Regions from separate parts of the Homo sapiens genome. Here regions 1 and 3 are each reported to be linked to region 2. The links are microRNA targets in miRTarBase. Many come from high-throughput screens and were not tested one by one. Region 2 holds a microRNA gene; each other region holds the end of a gene's coding sequence.

Region 1 (4,231 bases), not on the chromosome of region 2:
CAGAGGACCAATTCAAATCACTTATGAACACTGAAATACTTCTGTTTTCCTTATAAAAATTTAAAAGATATTTCTCTCCATACTTTCCCGGTAAGTCCAGTTCTTCCTTATTCTGATGGACCCCATCTCTTCTTGCTACAGCTCCTAGAATTACCAATTATCTCTAGCTAGTGAGGCTCTTTGATTACCAATAAAAAACCTTTCAAACAAAAATTAAGAGTAGGACACACATGGGAACAAAGAGATCCATATTTTTTACAGGGTAGAAACAATTTTCTTCTTTAAAAAATATTTTTGGTGGTGGTACATGCCTGTAATCCCAGCTACTTGGGAGGCTGAGGCAGGAGAATGGCTTGAACCTGGGAGATGGAGGTTGCAGTGAGCTGAGATTGCGCCATTGCACTCCAGCTTGGGCAACAAGAGCGAAACTCCATCTCAAACAAAAAAAAAAAAGTTTTGGGCCAAGTATGGTAGCTTATGCCTAATCCTAGCACTTTGGGAGGCCAAGGTGGGAGGATCACTTGAAGCCACAAGTTCAAGACTAGCCTGGGCAACAAAAGGAGACCCCATCTAATATGGTTTGGATGTTTGTTCCCTCCAAATCTCATGTTGAAATGTAATCTCCAGTGTTGGAGGTGAGGCCTGGTGGGAGGTGTCTAGATCATGGAGGTGGATCCTCGTGAATAACTTAATGTCATCCCCGCGGTGATTAGTGATTTCTAGCTCTGAGTTCACACAAGATCTGGTTCTTTAACAGTGAGTGACAACTGCCCCTGACCTCTCGCTCCTGCTCTTTCCATATGATGTGCTGGTTCCCCTTTCACCATGAAGCTTTCACCTGAGGCCCTGGCCAAGAGGAGATGCCATCACCATGCTTCCTGTACAGCCTGCATAACCATGAGCCAATTAAACCTCTTTTCTTTATAAATTAGCCAGCCTCAGGTATTTGTTTATACTGACACAAAAACAGCTTACATGGCATCTCTACCAAAAAAAAAAAAAAAAATTAGCCAGGCATGGTGGCATGTGCCTATAGTCCCAGCTAACTTGACCCCAGAAGTTTGAGGCTGCATTGAGCTATGATTATATCACTGCCTCCCAGCCTGGGCAACAGAGAAAGATCCCATCTCTAAAAAAAAAAACAACAAAAAATTTTTTTAAAGACAGCTGAAAAGAACTAGCCTAAGATGGACATGCTAATAATTCGAAATTTGAGTTTTCAAATCTAAAGGCAAGATATTTTGAAAAAGTACTGAAATTGAAATGAAGTAAAGCATGGCACATGAATTTGGTATCTTTCTAAGGGAAACCAAAGAAATCTTCAAGTACCTTGTCCAAATGAAGCAGAGATTGGAAGCACTTTGAACTCTTGAATTTCACTTTGAGTCTTGTGCTACATTTAATATGTGATATCTATATTCTATGAAAATTTTTTTATATTTAAAATATCAGGCTGGGCGTGGTGGCTCATGCCTGTAACTGTAATCCCAGCACTTTAGGAGGCTGAGGCGGGTGGATCACTTGAGCTTAGGAGTTCGAGACCAGCCTGGCCAACATGGTGAAACCCCATCTCTACTAAAAATATAAAAACTAGCCAGGTGTGGTGGTGCATGCCTGTAATTCCAGCTATTCGCAAAGCTGAGGCAGGAGAATTGCTTGAATCTGGGAGGCAGAGGTTGCAGTGAGCTGAGATTGCACCACTATACTCCAGCCTGGGCAACAGAGCAAGAGACTGTCTCAAAGAAAAAATAAAATGAAATAAAATAACGGTTCCCACAACTATCAGATTATTGTTACATTATTATTATTATTTTTTGAGACAGAGTCTTGCTCTATTGCCCAGGCTGGAGTACAGTGGCGTGATCTTCGCTCACTGCAAACTCCACATCCCAGGTTCAAGTGATTCTCTAGCCTCAGCCTTCCAAGTAGCTGGGACCACAGGTGTGCCACCACACCCGGCTAATTTTTGTATTTTTTGTAGAGACAGGGTTTTGTCATGTTGCCCAGGCTGGTCTCGAACCCCTGACCTCAAATGATCTGCTTGCCTCAGCCTCCCAAAGTAGTGGAATTACAGGCATGAGCCACTGTGCCCAGGTTGGTTATTATATTATTAAATCTGTAATAGGCCAGGCATGAGTGGCTCATGCTTGTAATCCCAACACTTTGGGAGGCTGAGGCAGGCAGATCACCTGATGTTGGTTGGGAGTTCAAGACCAGTCTGGTCAACATGGTGAAACCCTGTTGCTACTAAAAATACAAAAATTGGCCAGGTGTGATGGCGGGCGCCTGTCATCTCAGCTACTTGGGAGGTGGAGGCAGGAGGATTGCTTGAATCCCGGAAGCAGAGGTTGCAGTGAGCTGAGATCACACCACTGCACTCCAGCCTGGGCAACAGAGTGAGACTCCACCTCAAAAAAAAGAAAAAAAAGTCTGTAATAGATTTTTGGTGAAAATAAGTAATAATGTGGCCAGGCGTGTAGGCTCATGCCTGTAATCCCAGCACTTTGGGAGGCCGAGGCAGGCAGATCACGAGGTCAGGAGATCGAGACCATCCTGGCTAACACGGTGAAACCCTGTCTCTACTAAAAATACAAAAAGTTAGCCGGGCATGGTGGCAGGTGCCTGTAGTCCCAGCTACTCAGGAAGCTGAGGCAGGAGTATGGCATGAACCTGGGAGGTGGAGCTTGTAGTGAGCCGAGATCATGACACTGCACTCCAGCCTAGGCAAAAGAGCGAGACTCCGTCTCAAAAAAGAAAAGAAAAGAAGTAATAATCCTTCAATTTAATATTAGATGTTAATACTTTAAAAAGAATAAATTTTGACACAAGACAACTATACATTTTTTAAATAGATATGAAATACGTACCAAGTTTATTTGCCTTTAAATGATACAAACAGAAAAGACATGTTAGTCAAAATATTAAATTTTCTTGCATTTTACAGAAGAAAAATAAACTGAAGTAAAACTGTAGGAACTGCTGAACGTCAGATAAATGTTTCTTCAGAACAAGAGATATTAGTTCCTAAAAGATTCTTCTAAAGTTTTTTTAAAAGAGATTAAGAAAAACAGTAAGCCACTGGGTTATTACATTCTAAAAAAAAACTACATGTTTCTTAATGGACATATGTTTACATTTACAGATAGTAAACTTAGTTTCCTGTCTCATAAAACTCAGAAGACGCCAGTGATGTCTAAACTATGGAAAAGAATAAAAGCCTCTTTTTCATATGAAAAAACATTCAAACTAAATCTACCTTAACATTATTTTCTATGAAAACTTAATAAAGAATGGCTCTTCTGAAAACAAAATGCTATACAAATCAGTTTCAAAAAAGAAATACATTATGAGATTAGGCTTATAGCTAGTGGTATCAAGTAAAACCCCAAACGATGACACAAGAATTCACAGTATTAGCCGGTCCTCCCCACCCTCCTGAATTACCTGACCAATGGAAGTTTGGCTTTGTTGTTTCAGAAAGCACTGTTTCTTACATTCCATTAATTGTTCCAAATCACGCCACATTTTTGCTTGTTTCATATTTGGACCATGACTTTCTCGTATAACTTTTTGTTTTTCCCGAAGTTTCTATCATTAAAAAAAAACAAGAATAATTAAATCTCAGTTACAGGGGTTTATTTCTATTGCTATAGTCGGAGGAATATGGTATGTTTTCTACAGTAGATAAAAAATAGTTAGCTAAACCACATACTCTATAATGTACCAAAACTAAGATTATAAAAGTTAACTAAGGCCAGACGAGGTGGCTCATGTCTGTAAACCTAGCACTTTGGGAGGCTGAGGTGGGCAGATCATGAGGTCAGGAGATCAAGAGCTCTACTAAATCCAACACTAAGTCAAACTGTTTGCCTTTCTAGTTCTCCAAAAAAATACAAAAAAAAATTAGCCAGGCATGGGGGCACGCGCCTGTAGTCCCAGCTACTCGGGAGGCTGAGGCAGGAGAATCGCTTGAACCTGGGAGGCGGAGTTTGCAGTGAGCCGAGATCACGCCACTACACTCCAGCTTGGCAACAGAGCAAGACTCTGTCTCAAAGAAAATACAAAAAACAAAAACAAACAAACAAAAAAAACTACACAAAACTATAAAAGGAAGTGAGAGAAAAAGATAGTTAGGAAAGTGGAACAGTATCATGGTGTGAAAAGAAGAATGTAGAGTTTGGAAGTCAGAAGACTTCGGTTTTAATCTGGTTTTGTCTCCTCTAGTGGTAAG
Region 2 (4,489 bases):
CACTTCTAAAAATCCTAAAAGTTCATGGGGGCATTTTTACTGAGGTAATAAGACAAAAAATGGCCCCCTGAGAGGTTGCCTCTTTGCTTTCTTGGAGTAAGAGGAGGAGGGTGTGGAGGGGGGTGTCCAGGAGTGGAGTATGTTGGTCGATAGCCTCGTTTTTTAACCCCCCACTTTCCCTGAGCAGCGGCGGGGAAGCCTCCCCATTTGCCGCTCTGGCCGCCCCTCCCGGGGCTCTCTGCTGAGTCACTGCAGAGATTCAGCTGCTGGAACCCCGGGGATGAATGCGATGAGAAGCACTGGGGGAAAGGAGTAATGAAATCTGCACATGAAAATGTATACATTGAAGTACAGGACAGATAGGGCTGGGCAAATGATCGTCAAAACCTAATGGTTTTTGTCATCTGACCTTTCAAGGAGATACTGGGATACAGCCTGCTATTGTTGGGTGAAAACTGTGATATAACCATCATGTTCTGGCACTTTTTTGAACCATTTCTAGTATTACCTTGAGAAGTAGGACCAAATGGTTCTATCCGTCTTATGGACAGGTACTTTGGAGAAAAAAAGAAATGACTGCCCTAATAATGCCTAAAAAATAGCCTGGGGAGCTGACATTGTTTAAGAAACATGGTTATTTTACCACTGTAAAACCACAGGCTTGTTTTTAGATTTTAGCAAAAAGTATCAGGGATATGGGGGGGAAAAGTATCTTGTAAGTTGAGGAAGTTAGCGAACGGGTAGGTAGATTACAGGCAATAGGGAAGAATGTGTGTACAGACGGAAAGCCATTTCCCCCAGGGCTTTAGCAATTAATTTATTTCAGCTCTATGACAACTCTAATTTTAGTTTTGGAGGGTATTATTTCCATTCTGGCTGTTTTGAGAGAACTTCCATTCTACTGACAATTCTTGATCTGTTGACCATCAGAAGTCATAGACTTGAAACAGAACGGTTTATAATTCCTGTTTGGCACTCCTTGTCAATGTGGATAAACTGACTTGTGCCTTTGAAGTCCTGGGCATGGGAGGGTTGGGTGTACCAACCAGTGCTCTTTTTCCAAAGACAAAATCAATTCTCACACGCTGGGTATGAGTTATGCCTTATCTGGGGGTGGGGGAGCATCTTAGGAAATTAAATGGAAACTTAAAGAGTCTGCTAAGAAAAGCAGAAATGTAATCTACCGCCTTGACCTCTCAAGAGATTAGATATTCAGGGTCATGACAAAGCTGCTTATGTTGGAATACACAGTGCAGCTATCTTACTTTCACAGACTGTTTACCCTGAGCAGTTTCTCAGCCCAAATCCAGAAAGGAGTACTAAATGGGGCTTCATTTAGGCAGGAGGGCTGAAAATCAGGAGTAGCTCTCTGCTTGAGGACATGTGATAAGTTACTACACACACACACTCTTTAAAACATGAGATATAGCACATATATATTTTTTGAACATTTTACTGGTTGGGGGTAGTGGGTAGATGGTAGAGCTTTTGGAGTAAATAAGAAAGAAGTTATTTTTTTCCTGGGAAGCCTTGATAAAAGTCAACGAAAGAGTGTCCAGCATTTAAGTCATGTCCCTTTTATTTATATAAAGTCCTCTTCAGCAGGTATTGGGAAGACCACAAGGGTAGGGGCTAAGGGGTTAAAGTCGGGGAGCAGAGGCAGAAGATTATATGTTGAAATAATGTATTTTTTTTCCTTAAGATTAGAATGATGAACAAATATGGTGAGTGCTATGGCAGACAGAGGTTTGATTATAGTCTCGGTCAGCTTTGTGCCTATGTGAAGGGCAATGTAATCATTGCATGGTAACAGCAATCTCCCACCCCATCTTACCAGGTTTTGGTTTGTAGATGAGTGGACAATGTTACCTGACTGCTTACAGTGGGTCTCTGCTTTTCCTACAGGATGAGGGAGTGGTGGGTCCAGGTGGGGCTGCTGGCCGTGCCCCTGCTTGCTGCGTACCTGCACATCCCACCCCCTCAGCTCTCCCCTGCCCTTCACTCATGGAAGTCTTCAGGCAAGTTTTTCACTTACAAGGGACTGCGTATCTTCTACCAAGGTAAGAAGTGGACTATTGGAAGTCCTGCGTGTATCGGTCACATAAGTCCCAGCTGAGGTATTTATTTTGTGGCTATTGGTCTCTTGTTGCTCCTTAATGATGGAGGAGAGTATCTCTCTCTCTTTCTGTGTAGTGTGCTTGCAGAGAAGCGCAGAAAACTGCTGGGAGAATGGGGGTAGGGACTGAGATTCCAACCTGCAGACCTTACCTTTTAGTATAAGTTTTCTTTGTAGCTTGATATGTATTCCAATATTAGTTTTTTTTTTTTTTTGAGCAACCTGTCAGGTAATATATAAAATATTAATAGATATAACCACCATTGGTTCTCTCTCCTTACCATCCCTGATTTCATTTTTTCTGTAGATTATTTGTAGTGTAACTGTGATTTAAGTCTTGATACCATTATATAAATTAATTTGCTAGTGATGATGATTATTATGACCACTACTTATCAAGTAATTACCATATGCCAGGCACTGAGTTATGTTTTCAGCCTTCATTGTTTAATCTTTACAACAGCATTTGGAGATAGGTGCCATTAACCTCATTTTATAGGTGAAGAAACTGAGAAACAGATTGGAAATGATTTGTTTTGAGCGGGGGTCAAGAGCAATAACGAAAAATGTTTGTCATAAACCGTTTTTCATTATTGCTCCTGACCTCCTCTCATTTGCTATATTCAATTAAGTAAGTATACAATTTTTATTATGTTGGCTTGGGTTACTTCCAGTTTTACTGTTTTAGAAAACTAATGTTGAAGTAAAAGCTTCATGTCCATACAGTTTATTTTTTCCTTACATTTTCAAACTATACTACTTGTATAAATGGAATGATTTTATTTGCACAGATTCTCAAGAACAAAACTCTTAGGCTAAAGTATATACAATTTTTAACTGCTTCTAAATTATTTTTGAAAACCTTATTACCAAATTTTCATGTCACTGGCAGTATATGAATATACCTGTTCTAATCCCATACTATTAGCAAGGTTAATATTGTCTAAATGTTTACCTAATTTAGATGATGCTGAATGCTTCCATATTGTCATATGCATTAAAAAAGTTCATGTTTATGTTGATTAAGCCCTTTTTATAGTTGACAGGATTTTGTAATAGTTTTATTATGTTTTTGATGTTAGATTGGGTCTCCTGCTGAATAAAAAGTGCTGAGCAAACAGCATAAGCTAAAGGTGTTCCTTGGGAATAGTTGCTGTATCTTAGAGAATTTCTGTGAGGCCATTCATGATAAAGTACAAAGAATTTGTAGTTTATGTGTTGTGATCATATGCTTTTAACTGAAAATTTACTTTTCACTGAAAAAATTTGCATATTACAGAACAAAAGGAGAAATGGGGAGATGCTGTTTAAAAACACCTAGGTGAAAGTAAACAAGGTGCCTTCAAGTATTTTCACATAGCATGATTTTTACAATGTTTTAATATACAGATTGAAAGGAGAAAAGGCCTGTTCTCACCTAACGCAGTTAAGCTTACATTTTACAAATAATTGTGTCATTTTAATGTCAATTTGGTCACAGTTGCTTGTTCTTTGTATCAGATTACTTAGATTTTAACATCTTCGAGGTTATTTTTATAGGGATTTGGCATAATTGATTGTACTTTCCTTCTTCCTAGACTCTGTGGGTGTGGTTGGAAGTCCAGAGATAGTTGTGCTTTTACACGGTTTTCCAACATCCAGCTACGACTGGTACAAGGTAATGAAGTCAGACTTCTACGTCCTACTATGTCTTAAAAAATCTCGGCCGGGCGCGGGGGCTCAAATCCTAGCACTTTGGGAGGCTGAGGTGGGAGGATGACCTGAGGTCAGGAGTTTGAGACCAGCCAGGCCAACATGGCAAAACCCCATCTCTACTAAAAGTATAAAAATTGGCCAGGCATGGTGGCACAAGCCTGTAATCCCAGCTACTTGGGAGGCTGAGGCAGGAGAATCGCTTGAACCCGGGAGGCAGAGGTTGCAGTGAGCTGAGATTGCACCACTGCACTTCAGCCTAGGTGACAGAGCGAGAGTCTGTCTCAAAAAAAAATTTTTTTTTAATAAAAATTTAAAAAACCTCAAGGATTTTGTTGTCAGCACCAGAAGGCTCTTGCACATTTGAATTGCTTTTAAAAAAACATTAAATGTTGAACTGTTCCTTATTTACTGAAGGGAATAAACAACTCCTTGGCACTCTGGAAGGGATCACTGCCAAGTTACCCTCCCTCAACAGGGATTAATTACCAGGAATAAAGCATTTTCCAAGAGGATCATCTGTGGGACCTGTGGTAGTTTCATGGCGTTTTCTCTTTATGGAAGTCTGTTAAGCCAAGATAGGGCTGAAGCTCCTGTGCAACTGTAGGTCTGGTGAAAGGGAGGGGCAGGAGCAGAAAGCCCAAATCATCGTTTCTTTCTTGTAGATTTGGGAAGGTCTGA
Region 3 (4,231 bases), not on the chromosome of region 2:
CAGCTAGAGTCTTTAAGAAGAACGAGGCTTCAGCAGCAAAAATGTGTGAATGGAAATGAACTTTAAAGATGTAATACCTATGAAGAGTAATGGGCAAACTGTAGCCACATAATTGTAAAATTCAGATATTCATTTATACCACATTGTTTTATAGGTAATTTCTATCACAAACCAGTGACATTTCCTGAAATCAAGCCTGGTAACACCTGATGTTTATATGATATTCAGTAAGGACTTTTACCTTACTGATTTCATGGAGCTTTTGAAGTTTGTTTTATAATAATTATATAAATTAGTAATGATGTAAAAAAAGTATTTGATATTAAAAGTTTAATATTGATAATGTTGCTGATTGTACCATTTCCTTAGCTTCAGCTGAGTCATAGGCCAGACTGTTGAAATGCTGAAATGAAGAAGGTTGTTGCAGTTTCAAAGTCAGAGGAATCGTGCTTCGGATTTCTTATGTTTTCTAGTTCTCTGTTTTTCCAGTTCACAGTGGGTTGGGGTGCATTCAGTAGTCCATCTTTGGGGAACGGAGGCGTACTTGCCATTGATTCACATGACTACATGAAATTCTGTACTGTCATTTCCCAGATGTTTGGCCACAGAAACTTTTTCCCACTTAACATTTGTTAACAGCCTGCAAAACTAAACTTGTACATGGCAGTGGTTCCCAGACTTTTGTATTTTATGGACCGGTAGTAATATTTCCAAAAATCTGGGGTACTATAAGGTTGCCAATTTACCTTGCCAAGTAATCCGAATAAATCACTGTATTATCACCATTTTTTTCATAAAAGGAAAGGACAATCTATCTCTGAATAAGAGGAGTCCTTTAAACGGAATGAATGTGGCTTTTGGGGGCAAAAGAAACCAAGACACTACATTGTCTTTATTTTCTCCTATCCCAGTGCATTTGAGAACCATGCATAAGGGAATGCTGTGCTACAAAGCTGTGCCCAAATATGAAAACAAAATAGGAAACTTAAAAAGCAATACCCCCTTTAGAAAGTTTTTATTTTCTTAAATGTCATTGAGTTGCTTTGATTCTATTGGATTTTTGGCATTTTTTATGGGATCATCAGTTGGTTCCAAGTATGTTAGATCAGCTAACATCTGCTACTCCAGTAACAGCCTCGTACAACTGCAGGTAGGTTTTCTCCAGACCAATTAGTTTTAATAGAGCAAACTAACAACAGACTGTAGTAGCATGGTTATGGCAACCAGAATCTTCAGAAAGGTTAGGACATTACTTTTTAAGCTGTCAGTGGTATCAAATAACTTACCTAGTTGGAGGCAGATAAAGGATCCCTTACGTTTTTTCCTATAAGGCCTAAATTGAAATTGTTAACCAAGGAAACAGGGTCAGCCTTGAAAAATCAAGGAATTCATTGTACCTAATAACTGAAGTAAAAATAACTAGTTGTTCAACTTTTCCTAAACTCAAATCTATTTTTATAAACAAATGTAAATAATGTTTATATTAGAGTTGAACTGGTTTTCATTTTTATAACTGGTAGACTAGACCTTCCTTAAACTTTTAGAAATAAAATGAAGGCTTCACTGGATTTGTGAGGATAAAATACATTTTCTTTAATTGTCCTAGAGCAAAGTACATTAGTCACCATGTGTTTTTTGTGCCAATGTAAATTGTAATTTACCAAAGAAAAATACATACATTGCTTGGTCTTGCAGAAAAGTTCCCTTGAAAGAACCTTTCCAATAAATAAAACGTCCCAAATTAGCAGTACCTTGGGCTGTTTTTCATGAGTAAGAAGATTCACCATCCCATGTGATCTGTGTGGAAAAAGACCATGTCCTCTTGGTGGAAGACATGAGAGAGCTGAACTGAAGTGGAGGAGGTGGTGCAAGAGGGACCTTCCTGCTCAAGGCCCGCCCAGGCAGCGGAATGGAGTGCAGTGCTTGGCTGCAGAAACCCTTTGTCCCTCACCTATATATACACGGACAGTCAAGTTTGTTGCTCTAACGTAAGGCACAGCGTTAATCCTGTATGGCCAGGAAACTGAGTAGACTCCTGTGTAACCCTGTTTGGAACTTTGCCTTCTTAAAATGATTTTTCAAAGATCTCTTTCGAACTAATTTCTGTAGAGTTTAAACGTGTATTTTATCACCTAATGTTGGGTTGTATTTTCTCCCATGTTGGGAACCCTTAATATTTTCAGGACCCGGAAGAAAAGTTGGTAGAAGCAAGCATTCAGTTTTGAATGTTTGGATTTAAAGTATAGTTTCTGATCCATTTCCCTTTTTACATCATGAGTATATTTCAAAGGAGTAACATACTGGCAACAGCTAGACCAAGTGTTCAGTTATAGCAAATCTGCCGTTTACAAATTCTTTAATCTGTTATGCAAGGAATTCTCATACCCATTTGTCACTTTAAATTACAATGGTACTTTATTTTAATAATCACAAGATTTAACACGTAAAAAAAAAAGATAGCACTAATAAATAACAAAAGTGGAATGCTTATCAAAGTAACGACATAATGTTCAGTTGAGAATCAGTCACTTCAACAGAGTAAAGCTCTAAAGACACCAGACGAACCAATACTTGTTGGAATATGCCATACAACTTTCTTACTGTGGGGATTACAGGGGCAGCCCTGGTTCTGTGTGGTCAGAGTTATAGTCAGACAGATTCAGCACAATTGTGTTTCAGACTAAATTGTTTTTGAGACACGGTCTTGCTCTGTCCCCCAGGCTGGAGGTCAGTGGCACGATCACAGCTCACTGCAGCCTCAATCTCATGGGCTCAAGCAATCCTCCTGCGTAGCTAGAAACACAGGCATGCACCACTATGCCCAGCTAATTTTTGTATTTTTTTGTAGAGACAGATGTTTCCCAGGCTGGTCTCAAAACTCCTGGCCTCCCAAAGTGTTGGGATTATAGGTGTGAGCCACTGCACTAGGCCCAGACTAAATTTTGAAGTTGTGGATCATCTACATAAGATGTCGAGGATGCCCCTCCTGGAATAAATTAAAACCTGACTGACTTCTAGAATTTCCAGTAGCCAATATGGGTGTTCTTACATTCCTGAAAACAGCAAAATGAAACCTAATAGGTGCTGGTATTCACCTCTGATGTATCAGGTTTACTGTGTGACAAGTCTTAATGCTCCTAGGTTTACATTGTATAGGCAGCAGAGTATTTTTAATGTGTTCAAGTAGAATACGGGGAAAATTAGGATCAAATGAGAATTCATTTCTCTAGTGTCAATAACCCTCAACTCCTCAGGGAACAGTTAAGCCATCAAAACTAAAATAGCTTTATATTCAAATGCTTCAGTAACATGTTAAAGTCACTAAAAACTAAATGTGTAATTTACTTTGTAGAGGTAAGAACACACAGGAATGAACTGACAAACAGAACAAATTATGAAAAACGCTAATCCCCTAAGCATCTGCATGTCCAGCCCTTGTGTCTACTGTAGTCTACCCACCCCACTCCAAAAAAAGGTTCAGGTTATATCCCAAAGTGACCTGTTGCTGAATTACTTTCAAATAAGCAAAGTGCTCTGTAGTGTATAAGCTACTCAGGTCTACACATTCTAGAATGATGCACTTCTGTAGTCCTGGCTGTAAAATTTGGAAATCTACTCAGGTTCCGACTCCGTTTAAAACCCTTTCCAATGAACAGAATTTGTGATCCCTGGGTTCAGACAGTACAATTAAAATACCCCAAGAGGTGAAAATTTCATATTTTTAAATAAAAGCCATGGAAGGATTCTTATGGCTAAAAGCTAAATCTGAATTATCCGTGTCTGGCATTGTATAAACATCTTTTTAAGTTCATTTTGCTGGACTTGATTAATGATTTCAGGTTCTGGAGGACTCTTCTGAACTTTTGACACTGCAAAGTTTATCCCATGGGTTAATCCAGCTTGGGTAATACTAGCAACCTGGACCATGGAACTTCGAATCTTGGCAAAGGGAGAGACTGCTCTGCTGCTACTGCTCTCTGAAGGAGAAGGAGTTACATGAAGCCCTGTCTCAAGTTCAAGCATGCTGGAAGCGGAGGTGGGGGTTTTTTGAGATGCAACTGAATGCGCTGGCTCAACTGACAAAAACTGTGGGCCTGTTGCAGAAAGAGAGACATCTAATTGCGATGGCCGAGAAGGTGTCTGTTCTGTTGATTCTGATTGGGTTTCATTTGAAACTTGATTGGTCATTTGATTTCTTTCCTGACTAGCCTGCTGAGACACAGATCTGGTC

Evidence for each region. Region 2 holds the annotated microRNA hsa-miR-335-5p (UCAAGAGCAAUAACGAAAAAUGU, at 2,664-2,686, shown strand). A microRNA usually pairs through its seed, bases 2 to 8, with sites in the 3' UTR of a target mRNA and lowers its output. Matches are read on the target gene's strand: a 7mer-m8 pairs with bases 2 to 8, a 7mer-A1 pairs with bases 2 to 7 and ends in A, and an 8mer does both.
Region 1: the mRNA of IFT81 is a reported target of hsa-miR-335-5p. The part of its 3' UTR that is shown has no 7-base or 8-base seed match.
Region 3: miRTarBase lists INPP5F as a target of hsa-miR-335-5p. The part of its 3' UTR that is shown has no 7-base or 8-base seed match.

The regions. Positions count from the first base shown.
Region 1 is chr12:110,217,401-110,221,631 of GRCh38, reverse strand. It overlaps IFT81 (intraflagellar transport 81), which reads right to left. Exons shown (of 19, transcript NM_014055.4): 19 at 2,839-3,588. The coding sequence ends at 3,406. Among named protein-coding and RNA genes, the nearest start is that of ATP2A2, 62 kb to the left of the region's middle.
Region 2 is chr7:130,493,463-130,497,951 of GRCh38, forward strand. MIR335 (microRNA 335) reads left to right here and starts at 2,649; the gene lies at 2,649-2,742. MEST (mesoderm specific transcript) reads left to right here. Exons shown (of 12, transcript NM_002402.4): 2 at 1,906-2,060; 3 at 3,694-3,773; 4 at 4,474-4,489.
Region 3 is chr10:119,827,309-119,831,539 of GRCh38, reverse strand. It overlaps INPP5F (inositol polyphosphate-5-phosphatase F), which reads right to left. Exons shown (of 20, transcript NM_014937.4): 20 at 2,393-4,231. The coding sequence ends at 3,760. MCMBP (minichromosome maintenance complex binding protein) reads left to right here. Exons shown (of 16, transcript NM_001256378.2): 16 at 1-2,100. The coding sequence ends at 66. Among named protein-coding and RNA genes, the nearest start is that of MCMBP, 43 kb to the left of the region's middle.